Regions from separate parts of the Homo sapiens genome. Here all the other regions are linked to region 3. Evidence: fine-mapped expression QTL. A gene starts in region 3. Each other region holds a variant in brackets. All regions are shown on one strand. Distances are between the middles of the regions. Region 1 holds the start of LOC124903214 (a long non-coding RNA gene). Region 2 overlaps MCF2L (MCF.2 cell line derived transforming sequence like). Region 3 holds the start of MCF2L (MCF.2 cell line derived transforming sequence like). Region 4 overlaps LOC124903214 (a long non-coding RNA gene). Region 5 overlaps MCF2L (MCF.2 cell line derived transforming sequence like). Region 6 overlaps MCF2L (MCF.2 cell line derived transforming sequence like).

What was found. PIP is the estimated chance that this variant, and not a neighbour inherited with it, causes the effect.
Region 1: its variant is fine-mapped to the expression of MCF2L in whole blood (TOPMed, PIP above 0.99). The same link has a PIP of 0.9 or more in blood mononuclear cells.
Region 2: its variant is fine-mapped to the expression of MCF2L in spinal cord (GTEx, PIP above 0.99). The same link has a PIP of 0.9 or more in hippocampus and putamen.
Region 4: its variant is fine-mapped to the expression of MCF2L in whole blood (TOPMed, PIP above 0.99).
Region 5: its variant is fine-mapped to the expression of MCF2L in whole blood (TOPMed, PIP 0.92).
Region 6: its variant is fine-mapped to the expression of MCF2L in whole blood (INTERVAL, PIP 0.95).

Annotation. Positions count from the first base shown.
Region 1 is chr13:112,929,264-112,933,349 of GRCh38, forward strand. LOC124903214 (a long non-coding RNA gene) reads right to left here and starts at 2,089. Exons shown (of 2, transcript XR_007063877.1): 1 at 1,797-2,089; 2 at 1-685. It also overlaps a transcript of MCF2L not described here. RefSeq lists an enhancer at 78-920. The variant C/T (reference allele first, on the strand shown) is at 2,083.
Region 2 is chr13:113,059,610-113,063,695 of GRCh38, forward strand. It overlaps MCF2L (MCF.2 cell line derived transforming sequence like), which reads left to right. Exons shown (of 30, transcript NM_001112732.3): 5 at 984-1,103. Among named protein-coding and RNA genes, the nearest start is that of F7, 44 kb to the right of the region's middle. The variant A/C (reference allele first, on the strand shown) is at 1,864.
Region 3 is chr13:112,967,501-112,971,586 of GRCh38, forward strand. It overlaps MCF2L (MCF.2 cell line derived transforming sequence like), which reads left to right and starts at 1,714. Exons shown (of 30, transcript NM_001112732.3): 1 at 1,714-1,958. The coding sequence starts at 1,880. MCF2L-AS1 (MCF2L antisense RNA 1) reads right to left here and starts at 1,138. Exons shown (of 1, transcript NR_034002.1): 1 at 1-1,138. RefSeq lists an enhancer at 869-1,388 and a silencer at 1,590-1,649.
Region 4 is chr13:112,921,768-112,925,853 of GRCh38, forward strand. LOC124903214 (a long non-coding RNA gene) reads right to left here. Exons shown (of 2, transcript XR_007063877.1): 2 at 1,091-4,086. It also overlaps a transcript of MCF2L not described here. Among named protein-coding and RNA genes, the nearest start is that of MCF2L-AS1, 45 kb to the right of the region's middle. The variant T/C (reference allele first, on the strand shown) is at 2,340.
Region 5 is chr13:113,085,100-113,089,185 of GRCh38, forward strand. It overlaps MCF2L (MCF.2 cell line derived transforming sequence like), which reads left to right. Exons shown (of 30, transcript NM_001112732.3): 20 at 1-79; 21 at 1,025-1,150; 22 at 2,136-2,357; 23 at 2,608-2,700; 24 at 3,228-3,306; 25 at 3,463-3,529. Among named protein-coding and RNA genes, the nearest start is that of F7, 19 kb to the right of the region's middle. The variant C/T (reference allele first, on the strand shown) is at 1,865.
Region 6 is chr13:113,072,578-113,076,663 of GRCh38, forward strand. MCF2L (MCF.2 cell line derived transforming sequence like) reads left to right here. Exons shown (of 30, transcript NM_001112732.3): 10 at 1,867-1,986; 11 at 2,421-2,612; 12 at 3,389-3,580. Among named protein-coding and RNA genes, the nearest start is that of F7, 31 kb to the right of the region's middle. The variant G/T (reference allele first, on the strand shown) is at 2,200.

The DNA of each region.
Region 1 (4,086 bases), 38 kb before region 3:
TTTGCTCTTTATTCCTGGATTCGTGGTTGTCCTTAATGTGAATCTCTTTCCCCGATTCCTGCGCGGCTGCAGCAACGCTGCGGTTTGTTCAACTTCGTGGCTGCAGGACGCTGTCAGCAGTTTGGTCTTCTTGGCACACTGCCACTTATAGGCCAGGAAATGGGATAAAGCCATTTATCTTTTATCGGGATGGGAGCCTGCCCTTTCCGCCTTCTCTTAAATGCATTAGTAAAACCACTTGGGAAAAACAACAGGGAGTTCATTTGAAACTCATTTCCAGGTTAACTCTTCACACTCCTGATGAAATCTGTGAAGTGCATGGAGTCTGCCCCTGCCCTCAGGCCCCTCCACAGCAGGTGTCAGAATCACCAGGTGGGTGGAGCTCCAGACCCTGGCCCCTTACCGCTGGCCACAGCATCCTGAGCACCCTGCCCAGAACCTCCGGCCTCGGGTTCCTCTTCTGCAGAAAGCAGATGATGACGCCTGCATCACGGACTGCATGGTCGGGATGGCGGAGTGACCACAGGCTCGGGAAGTGACTTGGGACGGTCACTGTGGCTGAGTTAGCAGTTGGCTGCTTGTTGTTTTCTTCCGTTTGTGGCGATCCTTTCTTTCCCAGATGACCCCTGTTTTGTGACGTTCATTCTTCCCATTTGTCATTGAAAGCCGTTGCTGGGATAACGCTCTAATAAAAACCAGTGCCAGAAAAGATGCTCAGAATCATTTGTCATTAGAGAGTTACATATGCCCCTACACACCTGTTAGAGCATCGGCTTCCACAAAACCTCACAACGCCTGGTACTGGCGAGGACACAGGGCATGGGGAGCTCTCGTTCACTGGGATGGAGCGGAGGGAGTGGGGAAGACAGTATGGCCGTTACTTCCAAAGCTAAATGCACTCTTACCATACAGTCCAGTGATCTTGCTTCTTGGTGTTTACCCAAACTAGTTGAAAACATGTCCATACAAAAACCTGCACATAAGTGTTTATAGGAGCTTTATTCACAAGCACTAAAACCTGGAAGCAACCAGTATGTCATTCAGTAGATGAATAAACAAACTGTGGTCCATGCAGATGATGGAATATTACTCAGCAGTGAAAAGAAATGGGCTAAGTCATGAAGAGACATAGAGGAAACTTAGATGCTTATTGCCAAGAGGAAGAAGCCAATCTGAAAAGGCCACAGACTGTATGATTCCAACTCTGTGATATTCTGGAAAAGGCAAAACTATGGAGACAGTGACAAAATCCATAGTTGCTGAGAGGAGAGAGGGGTGAGTAGGTGGAGCTCTGGGGATTTTAGGGCAGTGAAACTACTGTATATGATATCATGTATTTGTCAAAACCCATACAGATGCACAGCACAGAGTAAATCTTAATACCTGCAAATTTAAAAATTATTTAGGACATGCCTATAATCCCAGCACTGTGGGAGGCTGAGGAGGGCAGATCACTTGAGGTCAGGAGTTCGAGACCAGCCTGGCCAACATGGTGAAGCCCCATCTCTACTAAAAATACAAAAATTAGCCAGGCATGGTGGAGCGTGCCTGTAATCCCAGCTACTCAGGAGGCTGAGGCAAGAGAATTGCTTGAACCCAGGAGGCAGGGGTTGGAGTGAGCCAAGATCACGCCATTGCACTCCAGCCTGGGTGACAGAGTGAGACTCCGTCTCAAATAAATAAATAAATAGTAAAAATCATTTCGGAGGTCAGAGGGGTCCCCGGAAGGAATGCAGGAACCAGGAGACACAAGCCAGCTTTACTGGAGCGTGTTAGAGCCAGGACGCGCCTCTCACCTGAGCGGTTCAGCGTGCAGATGACAAACAGAGGTTCAGAGTCCTGGCTGTGTCTTCTGGGGCCTCCCAGTGGGGAGGGAGTGGCACTCTGTGTTTCCACATCCCTTTCTCCTGCCTGCACAGGAGGCAGAGAGCCAACCTGTGCTGAAGATGCATGAAACCGCCTCACGGAAGAAGAGGAACAGGGTGCTGACCTGCGTGACTCTGGGCAGGAGTGGGGTCTGTGAGACTAGAGGCAAAAGAAGCCACACAAACGCCCCAGGCTCCACTTAATTACGTCGTTTCC[C/T]GTAGATACAGGTCGGCAGTGCTGACGCTGCTCTGCCGGAAGCTGAAACTGAGCGATTAGGTGAGCAGCTGTCTGCGGATGGGAGCTGCTTTCTCACTGTTCCAGGAGAGGCTACACCCGTGTTGTAACAGAGCAGGTGTGCGGCGTCAGTGTGAACTGACGCTTAGCTTAGTGCAGATACAGGTGGCGACATACAGAAATACTGTGCACATCCCATAGCACACGCCTGCCTCTCCTCACCTTGACAGCTGAGAGGGCCTGGAAGCAGCAGCAGCCAGTGTCCACGAGCGTCCCCAGTGGCCAGATCTTGGTTTCTAATTCCATTCTTCAGTAAAAGCAACTGGGCTTCTTAGAGAAACCGCAGATTCCAGGATGGAGGCAGGAAGTATGCAAGATGAGACTGGATCATCTTACAGTGACAGAAAGGGAGGAACAAAACAAACAAAACAAAACCCAAACCCACGTGGATGGGGGCAGGCCAGAGGGACGCAGGAACCACCGAACACTCCCCATGACCAAAGCAGAACAATTTGAGCAGCAAAGTCAAGTCGCGTTGTATTATAACCCCAAGAACAAGATGAAGAAGCGTGGGTCCACACTGACGTAAATGATTGAATAGATATTAATACATGACTGGAGACAAGAGATAAGTCTCCCTTGCAGAAGAATTCCCCATCCTTCATGTAGATGAGTTGTTGTCACGAGGGGAGCTCAGAACCCTACTTCCTGAGTGTGGGATGTGCGCAGCTATGTGGTTCCGAAGAGTTCAAGACGAAAAGAGGGAGAAAGAGTAACTTCCCAGCAGAGGACCTGACGACCTGAGCCAGGCAATCGAGGTCAGCACCGATGGCGACCAGGCGTGTAGACTCGTGCCCTGGGTAAGGCGTGACCGGGATGGCACTTTACCTCTGTAGTCCTCCTCCCCAAGCACATCCTCCCCACTCCAATCATGAGAAGGACGTCAGAGTTCCAACAGAGGCTTCCAGTATACCTGACCAGTAGCCCTCAAAACTGTCAAAGTCATCAAAAATAAGGGAGCTCTGAGAAGCTGTCACAGCCAAGAGGAGCTGAAGGAGACAGGATGACTGAATCCTAGAACAGAAGAATATATTAGGCAAAAACTGTGGAAACCTGAATAAACTGTGCATAGTTAATAATAATGTACCAATATTGGCTCATTAATTGCAACAAAGGCACCATAAGCTTAAGATATGAATATTGGAGGACACTGGGGGAGGGGTGTGTGGGAGCCCTGTTCTATGTCAGTTTTGCTGTAAATCTAAAGCTGTTCTAAACAAAGCTAAACAAAGTTACTTAAAAAAGAAGCATCTCAGTACCGTCAGTGGGCCTGTGTGGCCCCTCATAGGTATCTGTATTTTAGCAAAAGAGAAATAAACGACTTTGGCTGGGTGCGGTGGCTGGCACCTGTAATCCCAGCACTTTGGGAGGTCAACGCGGGTGGATCATCTGAGGTCAGGAGTTGAAGACCAGCCTGGCCAACATGGTGAAACCCCGTCTCTACTAAAAATACAAAAATTAGCCTGGTGTGGTGACACACACCTGTAATCCCAGCTACCCAGGAGGCTGAGACAGGAGAATTGCTTGAACGCAGGAGGTGGAGATTTTAGTGAGGCAAGATTGTGCCACTGCCCCCCAACCTGGGTGACAGAGCAAGGCTCCATCTCAAAATAAATAAATAAATAAATAAATAAACATGAAGGAAGGAAGGAGAAAAGAAAGAAACGAACTTAACCACAAGCTGAGGAGCAGGAGTGCTGGGCCGACAGCCTTCTGGGAGACCCACAGCCTCCTGGAGGTCCGGGCGCTGGCCCCGCAGGGGTTGGCTCCAGTTGTGTGTCTGATCCAATGGGACTTTCAGAGACGCCCAGGCTGCCGTCTCCTTGGGCTCTGTGTGCAGAGAGGTCTGTGTGGTTGGAATTTCGGAGGTTCCTCTGCCAGTTGTTCCTCCCACCAGGAGCTCCGTGGAAGCTGTGCTCCAGGAAT
Region 2 (4,086 bases), 92 kb after region 3:
CGCGGCTTTTGAGCGCTTCCTTGGTGCAGGTGTCCACTGAACGCCACGCACGCCTTGGTCCATTTCATCTTCGAAAGGGTGTCATGAGTAGGCACTGCCGGTCTCCCCACTTTCCCAATGGAGAAGCTGAGACACAGAGAAGGGGAGTGACCTACCCAAGTTCCCACGCCTTGTAAGAGGCAGAGCCAGTTTCCAAATAAATTCATGTAACTGTGTCCAAGGCCGTGTGTGCACACCAGGGCACAAGATTATTTTTATTTTTGTAGGTAACACACACATGTGTCTATGTTGCTTTTATAAAATTTGACAAGTGTCTTGGTTTCCTGGGGCCATGGTAACAAAGTAACTACAGACTGACCACTGGGCGCACAGAAGCTGTTCCCTCCCAGCCCCGGAGGCGGAGTCTGAACTCAGGTGTGGCCGGAGGGGGCTCCTTCCAAGGCTATGGGGAGCGTCTCTCTGCTCGAGGCCTCTCCTCAGCTTCTGGTCTGGCTGCCTCCTGGGTCTCCCTGGGTGTGGAAGCACCGCCCCGGCCTCCACCAGCAAATTCTCTGGGAGCTCTCCACGCGGTGCTGGGATCAGGGCCTGCCCTAATGACCTCACTTTAGCTTGGTTACCTCTGTAAAGACCGCGTCACCAGCCAAGGTCACGTTCGGAGGCACTGGGAGTTAGGCTTCGACATCATAATTTGGGGGGACACAGCTCAGCCCCTAACAACTGTCGTAAGCTTTGGACTTTTACATTTGTAAGCAGCATAACGTTCTGCCAAGACATGAGGCTTTTCCTCTTTTCTTTTAGAAAAGAGATGCCTTTCACAGAGGCCAGCATCTCTACCATGTTTATCTCAGCATAAACCTGCTGCGTTGAGGATGCCTGGCCGCTAGCTGCGCGCCCCCGGTCAGCCCAGCGTGCAGGCACCGCACTAGGGGGGCTGCTGTCTGCAGAGCACGCTGCAGGCCCTTGTCTCTCGCCCTCTCTCACAGGCATCTTTCCCGGCAAACCTGCAGCTCGTCCTCGTGCTTCGCCCGACGGGTTTTTTCCAAAGGACTCTCTCCGACATCGCTTTCAAATTCAATAGAGATGACTTTAAGATGAAGGTGCCGGTAAGTGCGCCCCGCCTCCATCCTGCGGTAGCAGAACGGAACTCATTGCCGTCCTGGCCCATCTGTGATCATCGAAATCCTCGAGGAGCTGACTTCAGGGCCACACGGTCAACAAAACCCCGCAGGACCTGGCGGGAAGTTGCACCTCCTCAATGCTGCCAGAAGCAGTACAATCCTTTCTTCCCCCACCCCCGCCCCCAGCCCCCACCCCGCCAGAGGTGCACAGAGCATCAACCTCAGAGAGGCCACCGTGTGGGCATCCCATCAGGACGCGGGTCACGCGACATTCATACCCCCAGGAGAACTACAGAACTTGAGACCCTAAGGGCTGAGAGTCCGCCTGGCCCACCCGCGAGGAACTCAGCCCAGGCCCTGCCTGCACCCCAGGGATGAGAGAAGGGCTGGGGAGGGGGCTGTAAGCATCTCTGGACCTGGGAGGGAGCACCCACTGCTGACAGGGATGGGCCGGACCTGTCCTGGAGCAGCCAACAGGGTGACCCCTGCCCCATCGCCACCACACTATCCCGGCACAGGGCAGCATCTCCCAACACTGCCCACTGAGAAAGCACCTTCAGTCCTGATCTGCTGTCCTTTAAAGAACAAAGGCTTCACAAAGTCCCTTAGAGCCTGTGGAGCCCGGTCACCAGCCCGAGCTGTGTAGCTCCCCCGGAGAGCCCTGGTCAGCTGCCTTGGCGAGCTCACATCTTCTCTGCCACAAAGAGAACAGAGACATATGGGCCAGCACCAGGCACCGCAGAGC[A/C]CCCCATGGCACCAGCCAGATGCTACTGGAAACCAGGCAATCTGGGGTGCAGGTCGCTCACTGTGAAGCTACTCCCTGTGCGCTGGGAATCAGGTGGCACCAGCCCTCCCTCCCCACCCTCGTTGCGCTACAGCCTCAATGCCAAAGGTGCAAGAGCCCTTCTCTGACAGGGAAGAAAACGGCCTGGGGCCTTTCCCCATGTACTGCCCCCTTCCCCTCCCCTCCCCTCCCCCTTGCCCTCCCCTCCCCCTTGCCCTCCCCTCCCTCTTCCCTTTCCCCTCCCTTCCCTCTCCCCCTTCCCCTCCCCTCCCTCTCCCCCTTCCCCTCCCTTCCCTCTCCCCCTTCCCCTCTTTTCTCTCCCCTCCCCCTCCCTCCTCCTCCCCTCCCCTCTTTTCCCCCTCCCCCTCCTCCTCCCCTTCCTCCTCCTCTCCCCCTACCCAAGACAGCCCTGGGGGTCACAAGGCCCCATCCACTCTGCCCACCCCCACGCAGTCCACTCTGGGTGTCACCCGTGACCCTGGTGCCTGGCCTGGGGCAGTAACTGCAGGTGCAGGGTGTTCTGCATGGCACCCATGGGGCTCTGTGCCATCGTGCTTTGGTGGCCCCAGAACCACCAGCTTCCAAGCCATTGGGAAACTCTGTGCATGTACCGTTTTTTGTAGCCTTGGAGAAGCCTTAGTGTCTGAACAGTCCATTCCCTAGAGACGACCAGCGACAAAACCGTGCAGAGCAGGGACTCGTGGGCAGTGGGAGGCTCATGTCCTGACACCAGGATGAGCTAGGCATTGCGTGTGCAGCTCAGAGCTCCTCTGACAGCTCCTCTCGTGATGGCGTGTGCAGCTCAGCACCCTGCAGACAGCACCTCTCGTGGTGGCTTGTGCAGCTCAGCGCCCCGCAGACAGCTACTCTCTTGGTGGCTTGTGTGTGTTATGGCCCTTATGATGGAGATAACTCCGTGCGCCCTCCTTCCCTGCTATTTGGCAGGCACTGCACACTAGCCATAGGCTTTGTGACCACAGACGTGTCACGGGGAGCAAGACCGACCTCACGGGTCATCCATGCCACAGGCTCCCCTGCACAACGGCTCCACAGCAAGCCGTCAAAATGGGTTTCACAGAAATCACCGGCATCTTCAAACTCACAGCCCCACTTAGATAATTCTTGAAATTAGAGTGGATGATGTGAAGGATGCAGTTGTTGACACGTGTGTGTCCGTGTTTCAGTGCCGTGTGCTGGACTCAGCCATAGAAAGGAGACATGAGGGAGAACAGTGGCCCCGGCACCTCTGCTGCCGTGACTGACTGTCCAAACCCATGGATGGAGTGACCTCAAAAAGGGCAAGAGAAATGCAGAAAAATGAAGACAAGGCGTGTGTAGAGGAGCTTATGCGGCCGTCGCAACCACAGGTTTTCCACATAACCATAACCGTGTGGGAACTGCCAGCCACTCTCCCCGTCCGGCCTCAGTGGTGGTGTGTTGATTTCAACTGGTGTCTACAATGACCGCGGGGTATTTTCGGCAGGAACAGGGACAAAAATGATCATCTCTCCCATCAGAGCACTGTTTGATGATGTTGCTGGAGGAGGTGTAAACGCCTGTTGCATGTCCTTGGCCATCACAGGCCGCACTCGTGTGGAGTTTTGTGCACCTCCAACAGCACCATTTGCTGCTCACCGTGGCATGATGAGCTCAGGCACAACGTGCCCATTTACGAAGGAGGCAGCTGAGACACAGAGTGGGCGGCTGGCCTGCGGGCGAGTGGGACCCACATCTGGGTCCACACAGGTCCGAAGCCAGGCGCCCCTGTCCACACAGCCACCCACAATGTCCAGGCGCCCCCATCCGCTCAGCTGCCTACAGTGTCCAGACACCCCTGCCTGCACAGCCGCCCACAGCGTTCAGGCGTCCCTGTCCACACAGCTGCCCACGGTGTCCAGACACCCCTGTCCACACAGCCGCCCACAGCGTTCAGGCGTCCCTGTCCACACAGCCGCCCACAGCGTTCAGGCGTCCCTGTCCACACAGCTGCCCACAGCGTTCAGGCGCCCCTGTCCACACAGCCACCCACGGTGTCCAGGGTTTGGATAAAATCTAGGCTTGGCTTTGCAAGCAGTCAGACGGGACCACAAAATGGGTCTCCTGAGGTTTAGCTCAGGGGTTATTTGACACCACATCATGTTTTATTAAATACCGTATCAGTCTAGAGTGGGGACTCCACTGGGG
Region 3 (4,086 bases):
TTCAATACTTTCTATCTGGTTATTATGCCTCTTATTCTGTAATTATTTTTTATTATGAATTATTTATTTCCAGATCTGTCTGGCCTATAAGGCCTGTAGGCACTATAAGGGGGAGTACTGCGTCACCTTCATCTTTTTATCCCTTTGGCCTTGCTCCGTGCCTGAAAGCTCACCACACTGGAACGTCCAGGTGCACATGTGCCACTGGACACCGGGATGTTGCCGGATGCTCTTTTGGACGCTGGAATGCTGGTGCATTGTTGCCGGATGCTGGAATGGTGCACGCACGCTCTGTTGGACGCTGGAATGCTGGTGCATTGTTGCCGGATGCTGGAATGGTGCACGCATGCCCTGTTGGACTCTGGAATGCTGGTGCATTGTTGCCAAATGCCGGAATGGTACACGGATGCTCTGTTGGACGCTGGAATGCTGGTGCATTGTTGCCGGATGCTGGAATGGTGCACGCATGCTCTGTTGGACGCTGGAATGCTGGCGCATGTGCACATGTTATTGGCATGAGCTGTAGTTCAAACCTCAGCCATATGATGCTTGAATTCCCAAACCATTCGTGGAAATGTGTACTTCTTCCTGCTGGAATTCTCTCTCTCTCTCTCTCTCTTTTAACTGATTGGGGAGTGAGGTGGGGGGGGGGGTCTTGCTACATTGCCCAGGCTCAAACTTCTGGGCTCAAATGATCCTCCTGCTTCTGCCTCAGCTTCTGCCTCGGCCTCCGGAGTAGCTGGGACTACAGGCCTGAAATACTGTTTCTTTAAGGAAGGGCATGTTACCTATAATACCAAACCACAAAAGGATAGCTGCGGTTTTGGGCGAGGAGAGCTCAGAGAGTTTCTTGCATATGGCCCTGTGATGGCGGCCATGGCCCTGCATAGACACGAGCTGGAATCTGCAGGTGGCAGCCAGGACGCTGCGTGTGTCGAGTGCACAGTGTGGCTTGGTGCCAACCATGGCGAGGGTGGAGAGCCCCGTGCCTGCAGCGCGCGCTTCCCTCACTGGGTCCTGCGTCCTTGGGCAGGCGATGCCCCTGCGGGGAGGGGCTGGTCCATCCCCGGCCAGCCACGGACCCACGCATGGACCCAGCGACCCACGGACCTGCTTACCTGGGCGCGGCGCGGGTGGCATGCGGCCACACGGAAGGGGCGCGCTGGGCTGCTGCGGCCTCTGCAGCTTCTACACCTGCCACGGGGCGGCCGGAGGTAAAGGGAGGCGGCGGCCAGGCGCGGCCCCGCGGAGGCAGCTGCACTCGCTCGGTCCACTCGCGGCTTCGCGGCTGCCCGCAAACCAGGAGGGCGTGGAGACCCGGAACCGGGGGGAAGGGCGGGGGCACTTGTGCGGCACCCGCGGGGCTCCCAGGGGACCTCGGCGGTGACACGAATTTCTAGGTGACCTTGGCGGTGACACGAATTTCTAGGTGACCTGTGTGATACACTAGGTGACCTAGTGACACAGGTGACACTTCCAGGTGACCGCGGCGGTGACCCGCGGGGCTCCCAGGTGACCTCGTTGGTGAGCCCCGGGGCTCCCCGACGACCGCGGCGGTGACACGCGGGGCTCCCAGGTGACCCCGGCGGTGCACTCACAGGACTCCCAGGTGACCCGCGGTGGTGACACACCGGGGCGGGCGCGCGCCGCTTCCGCTTCCGCCGAGCCGCCCCCCGCCCCCCGCGGCGCAGCGCGCGCCCCCCTCCCGGTGGCGCGGAACCAATCCTGGGCAGGGAGGCGGCGGCTGGAGGCTGAAAGCGCTGCCGTGGCCCCCTCCCCGCCTCCGCCGCGCCCCCTCCGCACTCGCACGGCCCCACCCGCAGGCGCCCCCCGTGCGGAGGAAGCGGATCTGCCAGGATCATTTTTGTTGTGTCGGAGGATGAGGTTTTGGCTGAGGACTGAAGAGATGGCCTTGGAAGAAATGGTGCAGAGATTAAATGCGGTTTCCAAGCACACGGGTAGGAGGAGCTGCTGGCCGTCAGTGATCTGTGCTTAAGCTTGACATCATGGGCTGAAATGTGGGGAAATGCGTCTGATTTTTGTAAGCCGCCCTCGTGTTCCTTTCTAGCCGTGGTAGCTGTGACATGGGGGGCACTGGTTGGCAGCTGGTGTGTTTTCAGAGGCTGTCGGCGATCGTATGCTGCCCGGGATAGTCAAAATGACTGCACGTTGGTGACACTGGCTCTCTCAGGGTTGCTGGGTCTGCATGCGGAGCCATTTGTGTGTCTGAAGTCTGCCCATCAACCTGCCTGTCCGCAGCCCTCGCAATGGAGAATGCATTGCGAATGGAGAATGATCTGAGCCAAGGGCTTTCAGAGCTTGGGGTTTCAGAGCCAGGGGTAGGGATGGTGAAGCTACCTGGAAGCTCGTTTTGAGGATGAAAAAACCTGGACTAATCAGGTGGTTCTTTTCTTCATTAAATGCAATTTAAACCTAAGACAGATGTTTGAGACGGTATGGGTAAAGAGTGGACTGGACGTTCATTTTCAGTATTAATCGAAATATTACTTCAAATAAGCTTTGAAGAGTAGTTCAGATCGATTCTTTTAGGTGTAAGCAGAGACTGGGCTGACAGCTTGCATCTGGCCGTGGCTTTCAGGCGGTCGCATCTGAGTTCTCAGGCTGTGTTATGCAGAAGGGAGAGGCATCCTTAACTCGTTTTCCTTGAAATGAAGAGGAAATAATGATATATCATTAAAAGTAAGTTGCCAAGTGTTTTGCCTGATGTTGCCATATGTTATGTCATATATGCCATTACTAGTTGTCTAACTAGTACTTGCCTGGGAGATTAAAATGTCAGTTGCTTGGTTTGGGTGTGGTTCTCTTTCTCTGCCCACCCCGATGGATTCTGAGAGTGAACCAGTGATTAAATCAGCATAAGCACCATCGTATGGGATGGTCTAATCAAGATGTTTTTAATGGGGGCTTTTATGATCAAAGCTGCTGGGTTTATTGTATGTGGGTCGAAAGAAAACAAAACCATTTTCATGCCGTCTGCTCCCTGATTCTTAGAGAATCAGCTCTTTTTCTGAAGCTTGAGTGGAGCTTTTCCGTGCAGGGTTTGCAGGGTTTGAGTATGGTGAAGGGCTGCGTGGATGCCAGGTTCACAGGGAGGCTTCCGATCGGCTGTGGGGGTGGAGGAGAAAGCCCCCCTTGCTCTGCATGCCTCTGCGTGCCGTTCGGTGTCAGAGTCACAGAGTGGGAACCGCTCCAGAGGCTGATGTCATTCCCCAGGTTTTTAGGGATTGGGGTTTCTTCATGAGCTCCAAGAGACATGTGCGCATTTTTAATTGGAAAAAGGCTATCTCAGAAGAGCAGCAGTGACACTGTCTGCTCACTGAATGTCGTGCGAGCCGGGCGCTCGGTGTGGGCCATCGTCTCATCTGGAACAGGCAGTGAGATGTGCGTCCTCCCACACATCTGCATTACCGATAATTGCATGCTTCACCAGGACTTTCAAGTCCAGCTTACCAGATATCCTCGGTTATGAGCACCCTGTAGCGTTTAGTTAGGGGAGGTGACCCTGCATCATACTCCACTTACCACCCATTAACACTGGCCTCTTCCTTCAGCACAAACCCATTTTCTGCTCACGCTGTGTGAGGTACTGCTCAGCGGAGGCAAGTTATTAGGTTGAAGGCTGTAAAACCATCATGAGGGGGTTTATGATGCAGTATTGACATGATGCTACCACAGAGTGTACGGGTATGTGGTGCACATTCTCTGGTAGGGGTGAAGGTCAAGGTAAACCTGATCCCCACCTCGGGTTTAAATTCCAAGCACTTCCTCAGGAGAGTTCCCCACCTGCAGCCAAACACTCTTCAGCGGGAGGTCATGGAGCTGCTTCTCCTTCTGGGGTCATGCTAGGATCCGTGCCAGGTAAAAGCTGATGGCAACAGGACACTGATGTGGCGGCTGGTGTAGGTCCTCAGGGCAGTGGCGGGGCTAGGTCACAGCTGAGGGATTGCGTACAGCGGCTGGCCTTAGAGCAGCTGCCTCATTCAGCTGTGCAGAGCTTCACCCTCTGTAGATTCACCCCCAACCCACAGGCATTTTATCTTTGCTGCTGTCCAGGACATGCTGCTG
Region 4 (4,086 bases), 46 kb before region 3:
AAGCAGCCTTTGAGTTGGAGGCCATGCCAGCTAAAGTGGAGAGTTCCTAAAAGTACAACACACAACTTAGCAAATCTATGAAATATGGCAGGAGAGAGTGTCAGGAGGATTATATCAATACTTATATCAGTAAAAATGTAAAAAGGATGCAAATACCTACATAAAAATGGTAGAAAAAGAACAATAAAACAAGCCACAAAAAGTAGATAAAAGCAGAAAATAAGGATAGAAATAATAAAAATAATAAATCTAAAAGCTGTTTTGAAAGAGACACATGAGGCCCCAGCTCACAGTGAATGGAGGAAAAGTCCAGAGGCCCAGAGCTGGAAACGTGTGGGCCGGGAGCAGCCCCTGCCAGAGGGCACTTTATATAGTAGTCGACTTTGTACAACCAAAACTCAATAAATTTGAAAGCGTAGAAGAAACAGATAGTTTTTCAGAAAATTACAGCTTTCCAAATTTGATACTGATAGAGCCAAAGTCTAGAATAAATGGGGAAAGGAAAGAGCTCTTCCCCGAAAGAGCAAGCCAGATTATTCCACACAGAACGTCTTCCAGATCTCTAAAGATCATACAATTTCAGTGCAACTTAAACTGCTTTGTGAGGTTTTCTTTTTCTGTCCTTTAATGTCACTTTATGTAGTGATTTCAACATTGATCCCCAAACCTGGCAACATAGTACTTTGGCAGAAATAAACTATGGACTGATCTCAATCTCATTTCTCAGCATTGAAGTAAAAATCTGAAAGCATTCACAACACATAAAAAAAAAAAAAACCCATCAGCCAGGCGCAGTGGCTCACGCCTGTAATCCTAGCACTTTGGGAGACCGAGGCGGGCAGATTGCCTGAGCTCAGGAGTTCAAGACCAGCCTGGGCTAAACGGTGAAACCCTGTCTCTACTAAAACACAGAAGAAATTAGCCAGGCGTGGTGGCACGTGCCTGTAGTCCCAACTACTTGGGAGGCTGAGGCAGGAGAATTGCTTGAACCTGGGAGGCGGAGGTTGCAGTGAGCTGAGATCGTGCCACTGCACTCCAGCGTGGGCGACAGAGCAAGACTCCATCTCTACAAACAAACAAACAAAAACCATCGTGACAATTAGGGGTTTATTCAAGGAATGCAAAGATGGTTAACATTAGAATCCATTAATGCATAGAGAGAAATCATGTAAGTTTCATAGATGTGGAAAAAGCACTCGACAAATGCGGTGCCTCTTTATGTTAAAAGAAATCCAGTCATAGGAATTGGTGGATACTTTTTTCTGTAACCTTTATTTTAACAATTTCAGATGTACAGAACAATGGCAAGGGTAGCACAAAGAATTCTCGTATATAAGACACTCAGATTCCTCAATATTATGTTTCACCATGTTTGCTTTCTTCTCTCATGTGTGCATATTACACAAATATACATTATTATTTTCTAGGTGTCAGAGAGTACGTGACAGACAGGCTACCCTTTTATCTCCATGAACTTCAGTGTTTGCTTCTTTTTTTTTTTTTTTTTTTTTTTTGAGACGGAGTCTTGCTCTGTCACCCAGGCTGGAGTACAGTGGCAAGATCTCGGCTCACTGCAAGCTCCGCCTCCTGGGTTGACGCCATTCTCCTGCCTCAGCCTCCCGAGTAGCTGGGACTACAGGCGCCCGCCACCACGCCTGGCTAATTTTTTTGTATTTTTAATAGAGATGGGGTTTCACCGTGTTAGCCAGGATGGTCTCAATCTCCTGACCTGGTGATCTACCTGCCTCGGCCTCCCAAAGTGCTGGGATTACAGGTGTGAGCCACCGCACCTGGCCAGTGTTTACTTCTTAACAAATATATTTGTTTGCTTATAAAACTAGAGTATAATTCTCCAAATTGTTTGTTTTTTGCCATTACTTTGAATGGCAAAACCCACAATTACCTTTGCAGCAACCTAATAGGTAATTAACTTCAACACACTCTTCTCTAATCACTGCTGTTTTGTATGTAGATCCAGAGTCTATGAGTTGTCCCCCTAAATGTCCTTTAAAGCAAAAGAAAATTCAGGAGCATGAGAATTTGGAGCAGGAGCTGCATTCAGTTGTCCTGTGTTTTATCTTTCTTTACTCTGGAGCAGCCCCTTAGTATTTCTTTGTTTCATGACACCGCCACTTTGGAGAGGGCAGGCCAGTTATGTTGTAGAACATTCCTAAATTGGGGTTTGTCTAATGTTTATTGCTAAATCCAGGAGATGCATTTTTGGCCCAGAAATGCTGATGTGTCCTTCCCAGAGCGTCCTATCAGGAAGCATACGAGACCGGTTTATCCCGTTACTGGTGGTGTTAAATTTGACGACATGGTTAAGAAGGGAGAGCTTC[T/C]GTAACATGACCTAAAAATACGCACACACATTATCCCCAAAGCCAGCATCCTACTCAGCAGGAAATGCTGGAAGCTCTCCCACTGAAGCCAAGAACAGAGTGAAGCTCCCCACAACCCCCCCACGATGTGTCGTCGTTAGAGTGCCCCCACACGCAGCTGGGCTACAGAGACAGCACAGACACGGGAGTTTACCTTTTCCTTTTCATTATCTCTATTTTCAATTTCTCCGTATGCAGTTGTTACATTTCTGGAAAACCCAAAATAATCATTGGATAAAATGCTACAAAAAAATAAGGGAATTAATAAATTTTATACCCTGCTGCTTAACATGTAGAAATCATAGGTAGGAACAAAAACCAAGGAGAAGATCTAATGGGAGAGATAATATTTATAGTAGCAAAAATAAAGTACCTCTGTTTTTAGCATTCTCGTTTAATAAATGCTGATACGAGGAAAACTATAAAATACTCCTGAGACACAGAAGACTTGAACACATGGAAAAGGTATATGATAGCTTTAGATAGGGAAGCTCCACATGACAAAGACATCAGTTCTCCCTGAATTAATGCATACACTTAAGGAGCCCCAATAAACACATCATCTTTTTCTTTCTCAGGGTGCTAGACAAGTTGATCATAAAACCCACTTAGAGAAACAAACATGAACACCTGAGAAAACCCTGGAGAGTATCAGAGGGGAATGGGCTGCCCAGACGTTAAAATTTTCTATACAGCCTCTTTAATGAAAATGGTGTGGATCCTGGCATAAGAACAAGGACAGGTGAATGGAACAGAATAAAAATCCAGAAGCAAATCAGGCTGCCTGGGGAAGATCCATGTAGCTCAAGGCAGCATGTAAATTTCGTGCTGGAAAAGATGACCTTGGTTATCAATGGTGTTGGGATAACTGGATAGCCTCATGGAAAAAGATGAAAGTCAGGTCTTCTTCACACCTTTCACCTGGATAAGTACCAGATGGACCTGTGATTTAAATGTAAAAAGTAATCCAATAGGCATATCCAATAAGCATATGAGAATGTGGTTGGCATCATGATTCAAGGGCAAAATGTACATTAAAACCACAATAGGGTACCATTCTTCGTCCACCAGAGTGGCTAAAATTAAAGACTGGCTATTCCAAGTGGTTGGTGCAGAAGTGGGATACCAGTGCTCACATTTCCTGGTGGGAAGGCATATTGCTATGACCACTTTGGAAAACATGGACAGGGTCTAAAGCTAAGCATGTGCCTGCCCTCCGATTCCACCCTAACTGTGCACCCAAAAGGAAGGAGTACTTCTGTACGTGTACGTATGTGGACGTTCACAGCAGCTTGATGCCCAGGAGCCCCACGCTGGACACCCTAACCTCTAGGAGCCTTAAGAGAAAACGGGTTAAATAAAGGGCATCATATTCATACCCCACAAAGCTACACGAGAAGAAATAAACCACTACAACATGCCTGCAGTTCACACATCAATCTCAAGATCAGGCAAAACTAGCTTCTCTGGTAGTGGTCATAGTATTAATGGCTGCTACCTCTTGGGAAATATTGGTTGGGAAGGGGCCAGGAAGCCTCCTGGGGTACTAGAAATGTTCTTTAGCTGACCTGGGCAGTGGTCACTGGGTACATACATACGTTTGATGTGATAAACTGCTCCGTGCATGTTCCTATATCTAGTAAAGGAATCTTAACATAAAGCAAAACCACACAAGAAAGCATTGCGTTGATTACATTAAACGTATTTT
Region 5 (4,086 bases), 120 kb after region 3:
GCTGGACCACAAGCTGAGCCTGGACTCCTACCTGCTGAAGCCAGTGCAGAGGATCACCAAGTACCAGCTGCTGCTCAAGGTGGGCTCCGCGGTGACCGTGGCCCGGCCTCCCCAGCACCTGCTGGCCAGGTGTCTGTGCCGCCCTGGGGCCCCGTCCCCATCGCGCCCTGCCCCTCCCAGGCCAAGGGCACCTCTTCCGAGCCTGTGCTGAGGCTGGGATGCCTTTCGAGGTCCTACTGTGCGCCACTGTTAGGGGTCTGAGGACGCAGGTGAGCAGACGAGTCCCCGTCCCCATGGGTTGGCACACAGCCCAGCCCACATGGGATTCTGTGTGATGTGCTGACCCGTCCCTCCAGGGTGGAGCCGTGCCCGGATTATCTGGCACACAGCAGGGACGTGGGGCGGCCTAGACTGGGGATTCCAGCTATGAGTTTGCCATGTGGGTCCCTCTAACCTTCAGGCAGGAAACTGCAACTCCATGCCTTTGGCCAGGGTTAGGGTGGCGAGAGGAAACTCCCCAGGGAGCAGGTGCGAGGGGTTTGCACCTGGCATCAGGGTGGCAGGAGGGAGCTCCCCGGGGAGCAGGTGCGAGGGGTTTGCACCTGGCATCAGGGTGGCAGGAGGGAGCTCCCCGGGGAGCAGGTGCGAGGGGTTTGCACCTGGCATCAGGGTGGCAGGAGGGAGCTCCCCGGGGAGCAGGTGCGAGGGGTTTGCACCTGGCATCCGGGTGGCAGGAGGGAGCTCCCCGGGGAGCAGGTGCGAGGGGTTTGCACCTGGCATCCGGGTGGCAGGAGGGAGCTCCCCGGGGAGCAGGTGCCAAGGGTCTGCACCTGGCAGGGGTGCTGCCCCATCTGCAGCACCACTCAGTCTGTCCCAGCTGCAGGAGGGCAGGCAGGGCAGCTCCCCACAGACCAGGGGAGGGTGAGCAGCATCCCTACCTCGTGCCAAGCTCCTGAGGGGTCTGTTCCAGGGGAGCCAGGGCTCTCCGTGTCCCGACGCGGTTGCCTCACCCCATGCCCCTCAGGAAATGCTGAAATACAGCAGGAACTGCGAGGGGGCTGAGGACCTGCAGGAGGCGCTGAGCTCCATCCTGGGCATCCTGAAGGCCGTGAACGACTCCATGCACCTCATCGCTATCACCGGCTATGACGTAAGGCGCCCAGATGCCCGGTCTTCCCCGCCGCCTCCGTGGAATACACCAGCCCAGCAACTTGGCGGCCTCCCTGCACACGCCCCTCGCTTTGGTGTGAATGTGCAGGTTCTGGGCAGGAGGTCTGGGGTGGTCCCTAGATAAGCCCACTCCCAGGCCCCACAGCCGGGTCCACAGACCCCACAGCCGGGTCCACAGACCCCACTGGGCTCTCTGGGACGTGGAGAAAATCAGGAAGCGTCCCTTGCTTGGAGGGCACGCATCTCCAGCAGGAACGCAGCTCAGACCTCCTCACTCCTTGTCTTCTCCTGGGGAGGAGGCGTGGCTCGGAGCAGACGTGACTTCTGTTTTCTGGGCTGCGATTTGCAGGCTGGTGACTTAGAGCAAGTGGCCCCAGAAGGCAGATGTCACTTTCCCCGTAGAGCCCCACATCAGGTCACAGCTTATTCATCTTTTGTCCGTCTTTATGTCCACCCAGCACTCATTCTCAGGTGTTTTTTTTTTAACTAATAGAGTTGATTTATTGCAGCAATTTTTGGTTTGTGAGATAATTGAGTATAAATCAGAGGCCCTGAGGCTTCCCCTAGTGTTGACATTTAGCATGGGTGCCACACCTGCCACACATGGTGAACTAGCGCTGATGCTGATTAGTGACTGAGGGCCGTTCCCCTTGGAGCTCACTCTGGGTGCTGTGCATTCTGCGGTTTGGACAGG[C/T]GTGTAACATCCTACACCCAGCGCTAGAGCATCACACAGAGCAGCTTCACTGTCCTAGAAGCCCATGTGCCCCGCCAGTCCATCCCTCCTCCCCCAGCCCCTGGCACCTGCTGACCTGTCAGTCTCCACGAGCTTGCCTTTCCTGGGACGCCCTGCAGCTGGAATCCCACCGTGGGTGGGCTTTGCAGAGTGGCTGCTTTCACTCAGCGATGCGCGTCCATGGCCCCAGGCCCATCCCGTCCTGAACACAGCCCTGCTGTCGCACATTTAGGGGAATCTCGGCGACCTGGGCAAGCTGCTGATGCAGGGCTCGTTCAGCGTCTGGACCGACCACAAGAGGGGCCACACCAAGGTGAAGGAGCTGGCCAGGTTCAAGCCCATGCAGCGGCACCTGTTCCTGCACGAGAAGGCAGTGCTCTTCTGCAAGAAGAGGGAGGAGAATGGGGAGGGGTATGAGAAAGCTCCCTCCTACAGCTACAAGCAGTCCTTAAACGTAAGTGAGGCCGGGTCTGCAGCAGCACGCTCCTGGCCACAGACCCCGACGGGGGAAGTCTGTAACTCGGTCTGAGGTGGCCACGCTGACACCCAGCTCTCAGCCTTAGGTGTAGGGGTGGGGTATTCTGCCATTCTTAGCCCTCACCCCCAAAGTATTTCCATCATTTCGTGCCTGCACCAACACCTTTTAAAAACAAGGCAGTGGGTTCACTGTGCACGCGAACCCCATCTCCACTCTCTGCTCGCAGATGGCTGCCGTTGGCATTACGGAGAACGTGAAGGGAGATGCTAAGAAGTTCGAGATCTGGTACAACGCGCGCGAGGAGGTCTACATCGTCCAGGTGGGCCACCCACCCTACCCCTGGCCTCTTACACATTGCCACGAATGGTTTCTCATGGGAACCAGTGCAAGGATCTGCCATGAAGTTGCATCGAGCCCAGGAGCAGCCGCTGTACACTTCAGGATGCTGCCCTGGGCTGTCTTCACCCTGAGCTGGACCCAGAATGAAATGTGGGGAAAAGTACACATCAGACGGGGTGCTGCGAGGAAACGGGCTCTCCCTCCCCAGGGGAGCTCATGTGTCCCTGGACGGTGCAAGTGTGCATCTGGCACGCAGGGCCGATTCTCACGGTGGGGAGGGTGCCGTGCCCTGGGTGCCAGGCACAGTTCTTCAGTCAGTCCCGTGCATGGGGCACAGAGGGTCCCGCAATGCGGGGCCACCCACAGTGCTTTCCTCCTCTCCCCTCACACGCAGCCACCTGACCTTTGACTCCTAAGATTATCTTTGGATGTTCCGAGAGTGAAACCAAAGCGTGTTTCCTCGGGGGCCTGAGTACTCACCTCCTGGCGTTTCTTTTGGGGAAACAGGCGCCAACTCCTGAGATTAAAGCCGCGTGGGTGAATGAAATTCGGAAAGTGCTGACCAGCCAGCTGCAGGCTTGTAGAGGTGAGGCTGTCTTCAAGCGATCGTTTCCCGTAGCTTCCGCTCCAGGTGCATTTTTACCTATGTTCAGAGCAACCGCACAGTCCCCCCATGCGCAAGGTGCCTCGGCGTTGAAGTAAAGACGCTCGTTCACGTGGTTTGTCTGCTCCCTCCTCGCAGAAGCCAGCCAGCACCGGGCGCTGGAGCAGTCACAGAGCCTGCCCCTGCCGGCCCCGACCAGCACCAGGTGAGAATGGACACGCTGCCGCAGGCCTGCGTTTCTGGAGCAGTCCCGAGCAGGCCATTTGCACGCCAGGGTCCTCGGCCTCTGTCAGTGGGACCCTGTGGTTATTGGGGTTTTCCTTGAGGCCCCTGGTGTTTATGTGCTGACGGGTCCGTCCCAGAGGGTGTACTTCACAGATGTGTGCCTCCGACAATGCCCAGTCCCTCTCCAGCTCTTCCCGGGGTGGGCTGTTCCACAGCACGGCAGTGCGCACATGGCCTGTCCAGATCACAGCCACGCCCCAGCACTCCTCAGACAGTCGGGGCTCAGCTGGGAGCCGGCACTGATGGCCCAGCACACACGTGGGCACGTTTCAGACTCCGACCCTGACCGTGGCTTCGTCGTGTCTCTTCTGCCCTTGTTTTTTCTTTATTTTGTTCATCCACTTATTTTTTTCACTTTATCCTGTTTCTTATATAAGCTACCTTTAATCATTCATGGAACAGGATATGGCCTAAATAAATAATCCGTAGAACAGTAGTTTTAAAAAAGAAACACTCCCCCGCCCCCCCCCCCGCCCC
Region 6 (4,086 bases), 110 kb after region 3:
ATTGAAACTATCTGTTTCACAATGAGATATAGTAGTGTGCTTTTCAAGGCAATGTGTAGGGTTGTTTATAGTATTCTTTCTTATCTTTTTGACGTCTGCAGGGTCTGTAGTGATATTCCCTGTTTCATTTCTGATATTTGTAATTTGCATCTTTTCCTTTTTTCTTTGTCAATCTAGATTGAGATGTATCACTCCTCATCTTTCCAAAGAACTCGTTCTTTGTTTCATTAGTTTTCTCTGTTGTTTTCTGTTCTCAGTTTCATTGATTTCTGATCCTACCTTTATTATTTCTACAAATTGCTTTGGTGGGAACTTACATTCTTTATTTGAGACTGTTCCTCTTTTCTAACATACATATTTAATAAGAACACTATAAATTTCCCTCTCATCACTGATTTAGCTGTGTTCCACAAATTTTGATGTATTGTATTTTCTTTTTCATTTACTCCAGCTTTTTTTTTTTTTTTTTCCAATTTCCCTTGGAACTTCCTCTTTGACCCATCCATTCTTTAAATGTATGTTGTTTGGCTTCCAGTGTTCAGAGATTTTCCCGTTGTCTTTCCATTCTTGATTTCAAGTTTGATTCATTGTAATCAGAGAACATACTCTGTATGATTTCTGTTCTTATAAATGTGTTGAGATTTGTTTTGCAGCCCAAGAATATGGTCTTTCTTGGTATATGTTCCTCACTTGAAAAGAATGTGTATTCTGCTATTGTTAGGTGAAGTTTTATACATATCAGTTAGATCCTGTTGGTTGATGGTATTGAGTTCTTCTATATCCGAGCTAGTTTCTGAGAGGTGGTGCATTATCCATAACTCAGTGGCTGTGCGTAACATGGAGAGAAGTCTCACTCATCAGCTGTGCCAGATGCAGGGGGTTCAAGGATGGACAAGAATCCTGCCTTCCTGGCCTTCAACCCCAGGCCATCTGAACTACAACCCCCTTGGCACTGGGATGTCTGCGTACACACCCATTCTCAGGATCATTTCCAATAACAAAAATTAAAAGCTTTTGTATTTAAAGGAATAAGTGGTCATATGTTTTAAAAATCAGGCCAGGCATGGTGGCTCACACCTGTAATCCCAGCACTGTGGGAGGCCAAGACGGGTGGATCACCTGTGGTCAGGAGTTCAAGACCAACCTGGCCAACATGGTGAAACCCCATCTCTACTAAAAATGCAAAAATTAGCTGGGCGTGATGGCTGGTGCCTGTAATCCCAGCTACTTGGGAGGCTGAGGCAGGAAAATCACTTGAACCAGAGAGGCAGAGGTTACAGTGAGCCAAGATCACGCCACTGCACTCCAGCCTGGGCAACAAGAACAAAACTCCGTCTCAAAAAAAAAAAATTAAAAATTAAAATAAAAATCATTTCTATGACACCCATTGTCTTCCTGCCAACAGCAGAAATCGTAGACATTAGAAGTTAGTAGCAAGCTAGAAGGGACTGAGTTACATAACTCTCCACACCTAGGATCCAGTAGGAATGCTGACAATTCCAGTGTCCATATTGCTGCTGGCTTTCGGCTCCCAGGGCCTTTGTCCTTGCGTGATCTCATCTTCTCCTCATGCTGTTTTCAGGCGTGTGGTTGATAAACGGAGGCACACACAAGCCACAGAGAAACAATTGTTCTGCCAGTGAGGTCACTGGTGGGTAGCGTCGACCCAGAGGCCCCACGGTCCCCGCTTGATTGGTGACCACTCGGGGCCGACTTTGCACCTGTCTGACTGTGGTCCCTGCTTGATTGATGACCACTTGGCCCGACTTTGAATTCTGTCATTTCCCTGATCTGGAGCACTGGAGTGGGTTCTCTCTGTTCAGGTGAGGGAGACACCCCCCTGAGATGGGCCCTCCTCTGTTCCAGGTCAAAGCCATCTTGGACGCAGCGTCCCAGAAGATAGCAACCTTCACAGACATCGGCAACAGCCTGGCGCATGTGGAGCACCTGCTGAGGGACCTGGCCAGCTTCGAGGAGAAATCAGGCGTAAGGCGGGGTCCCGGCGGGGGCGGCGGGAGAGTGTGGGCAGCATCATCAAGTGCTGCTCAGGAAGGCGCAGGAATGGGCCTCCCGCCTACGGAGAACGGACCCCACAGCCCCCCGGGGATGTCCATGGGGTGGGGGGTGCTGCTGCCTGTACCCCTCCCCTCCCACACCCCACCCACAGCACATGGCCCTGCCCGGCCTCCTCTGGGTCAG[G/T]TCCCTGCAGACGGTCAATGCCTTTGCTGGGACCACCACAGCCCCCAGAAGCACTTGCCACAGAACAGCTTCGGGGATTAAGCAGCATCTCAGGCATCCGCAGCAGTAAACAAAGAAATCAAGACACACGTGTGCCCCGGGACACACATCCCGTACAGCAAGGCACTGTGTGCCTCGAACAGAAAGAGGCCTGAGCTGGTCCTCTGGGTGGCCGTCCACAGGTGGCCGTGGAGAGGGCCCGGGCCCTGTCTCTGGACGGCGAGCAGCTCATTGGGAACAAGCACTACGCGGTAGACTCCATCCGCCCAAAGTGCCAGGAGCTCCGGCACCTCTGTGACCAGTTCTCTGCGGAGATCGCAAGGAGGAGGGGGCTGCTCAGCAAGTCCCTGGAGCTGCACCGCCGCCTGGAGACGGTAGGCCGAGCCGGACCCCACCCCACTCCCCCCCAGCTGCGGAACCAGCCTCTTCCTCCCACATCCACCACCGGCTGACCCTTGTCGTGGGGAGGGCAGCTCTTTGGCTGGAAAATGTCCTTGCACCCTTCGTTTCTGGTCTTGTTGGCCTAGAGGGTCTTTTTCTAGAATTCATTTGCCACAGTTTTATTTCTTTTTTTTTTTTTTTCTCACTGCAACCTCTGGTTCCTGGGCTCAAGGGATCCTCCCACCTCAGCCCCCAAGTAGCTGGGACTGTAGGTGCATGCCACCGTACCCAGCTAATTCTTGTATTTTGTGTGTGTGTGATAGAGATGGGGTCTCACTATGTTGCCCAGGCTGGTCTCGAACTCCTGGGCTCAGGTGATCCTCTCACCTTCACCTCTCAGAGTGCTGGGATTACAGGCGTGAGCCACCCTGCCCAGCCAATAATGATTTCTTTAAAAGATCCAGAAGCTTAAGGCCTGGTTGATCCTACTGCACTTACCCTGCCTCTCCAGGCCCCGCCCTGGGTAATTCACTGGTGTTGTCCAGCACTGTGTCCCCTTGGGATTGGCCTTGTCCAGCACTGTGTCCCCTTGGGATTGGCCTTGTCCAGCACTGTGTCCCCTTGGGGTGCTTTGGACAGGGTGGCGGGAGCACGAGGAGTCGGTGGCCCGGGATCTGTCGGGAGGACACCCCGGCAGTGTGTGCCTGGACAGGGTGACGCTCTCACCCTCTCACGGCGTCCTGCCCTCGGCAATGCTCTGTGTTTCCAGTCCATGAAGTGGTGTGATGAAGGGATTTACCTGCTGGCCTCACAACCTGTGGACAAGTGCCAGTCCCAGGACGGCGCGGAGGCTGCCCTCCAGGAAATCGAGAAGTTTTTGGAGACCGGTGCGGAAAATAAGATCCAGGAGCTCAACGCGATTTACAAGGAATACGAATCCATCCTCAACCAAGATCTCATGGTAACGCTGACTCGGGCTCTCCATTTGCAGCTTGCTGTCCCGAGCAGTGAGGCATTCCTCTGTGGGAAGTTTGAAAGAATCATTTAATGAATTATTTGTATTTATTTATTATTATTTTTTTTTTGAGATGGAATCTCGCTCTTGTCGCCCAGGCTGGAGTGCAGTGGCACGATCTTAGCTCACTGCAATCTCCGCCTCCCAGGTTCAAGCAATTCTCCTGCCTCAGCCTCCTGAGTAGCTGGGATTACAGGCGCCCACCACCAAGCCTGGCTAATTTTTGTATTTTTATTAGAGACAGGTTTTCACCATGTTGGCCAGGCTGGTCTCGAACTCCTGACCTCAGGTGATCCACCCAGCTCAACCTCCCAAAGTGCTGGAATGACAGGTGTGAGCCACCGCACCTGGCCCATTTAATGAATTACTACCAAATAATAGGCATATGAGAGAAACACACAGTTGGGAGGTCAAGCTGAATTTTCCTTTCAACACAGAAATTATTTCCACGC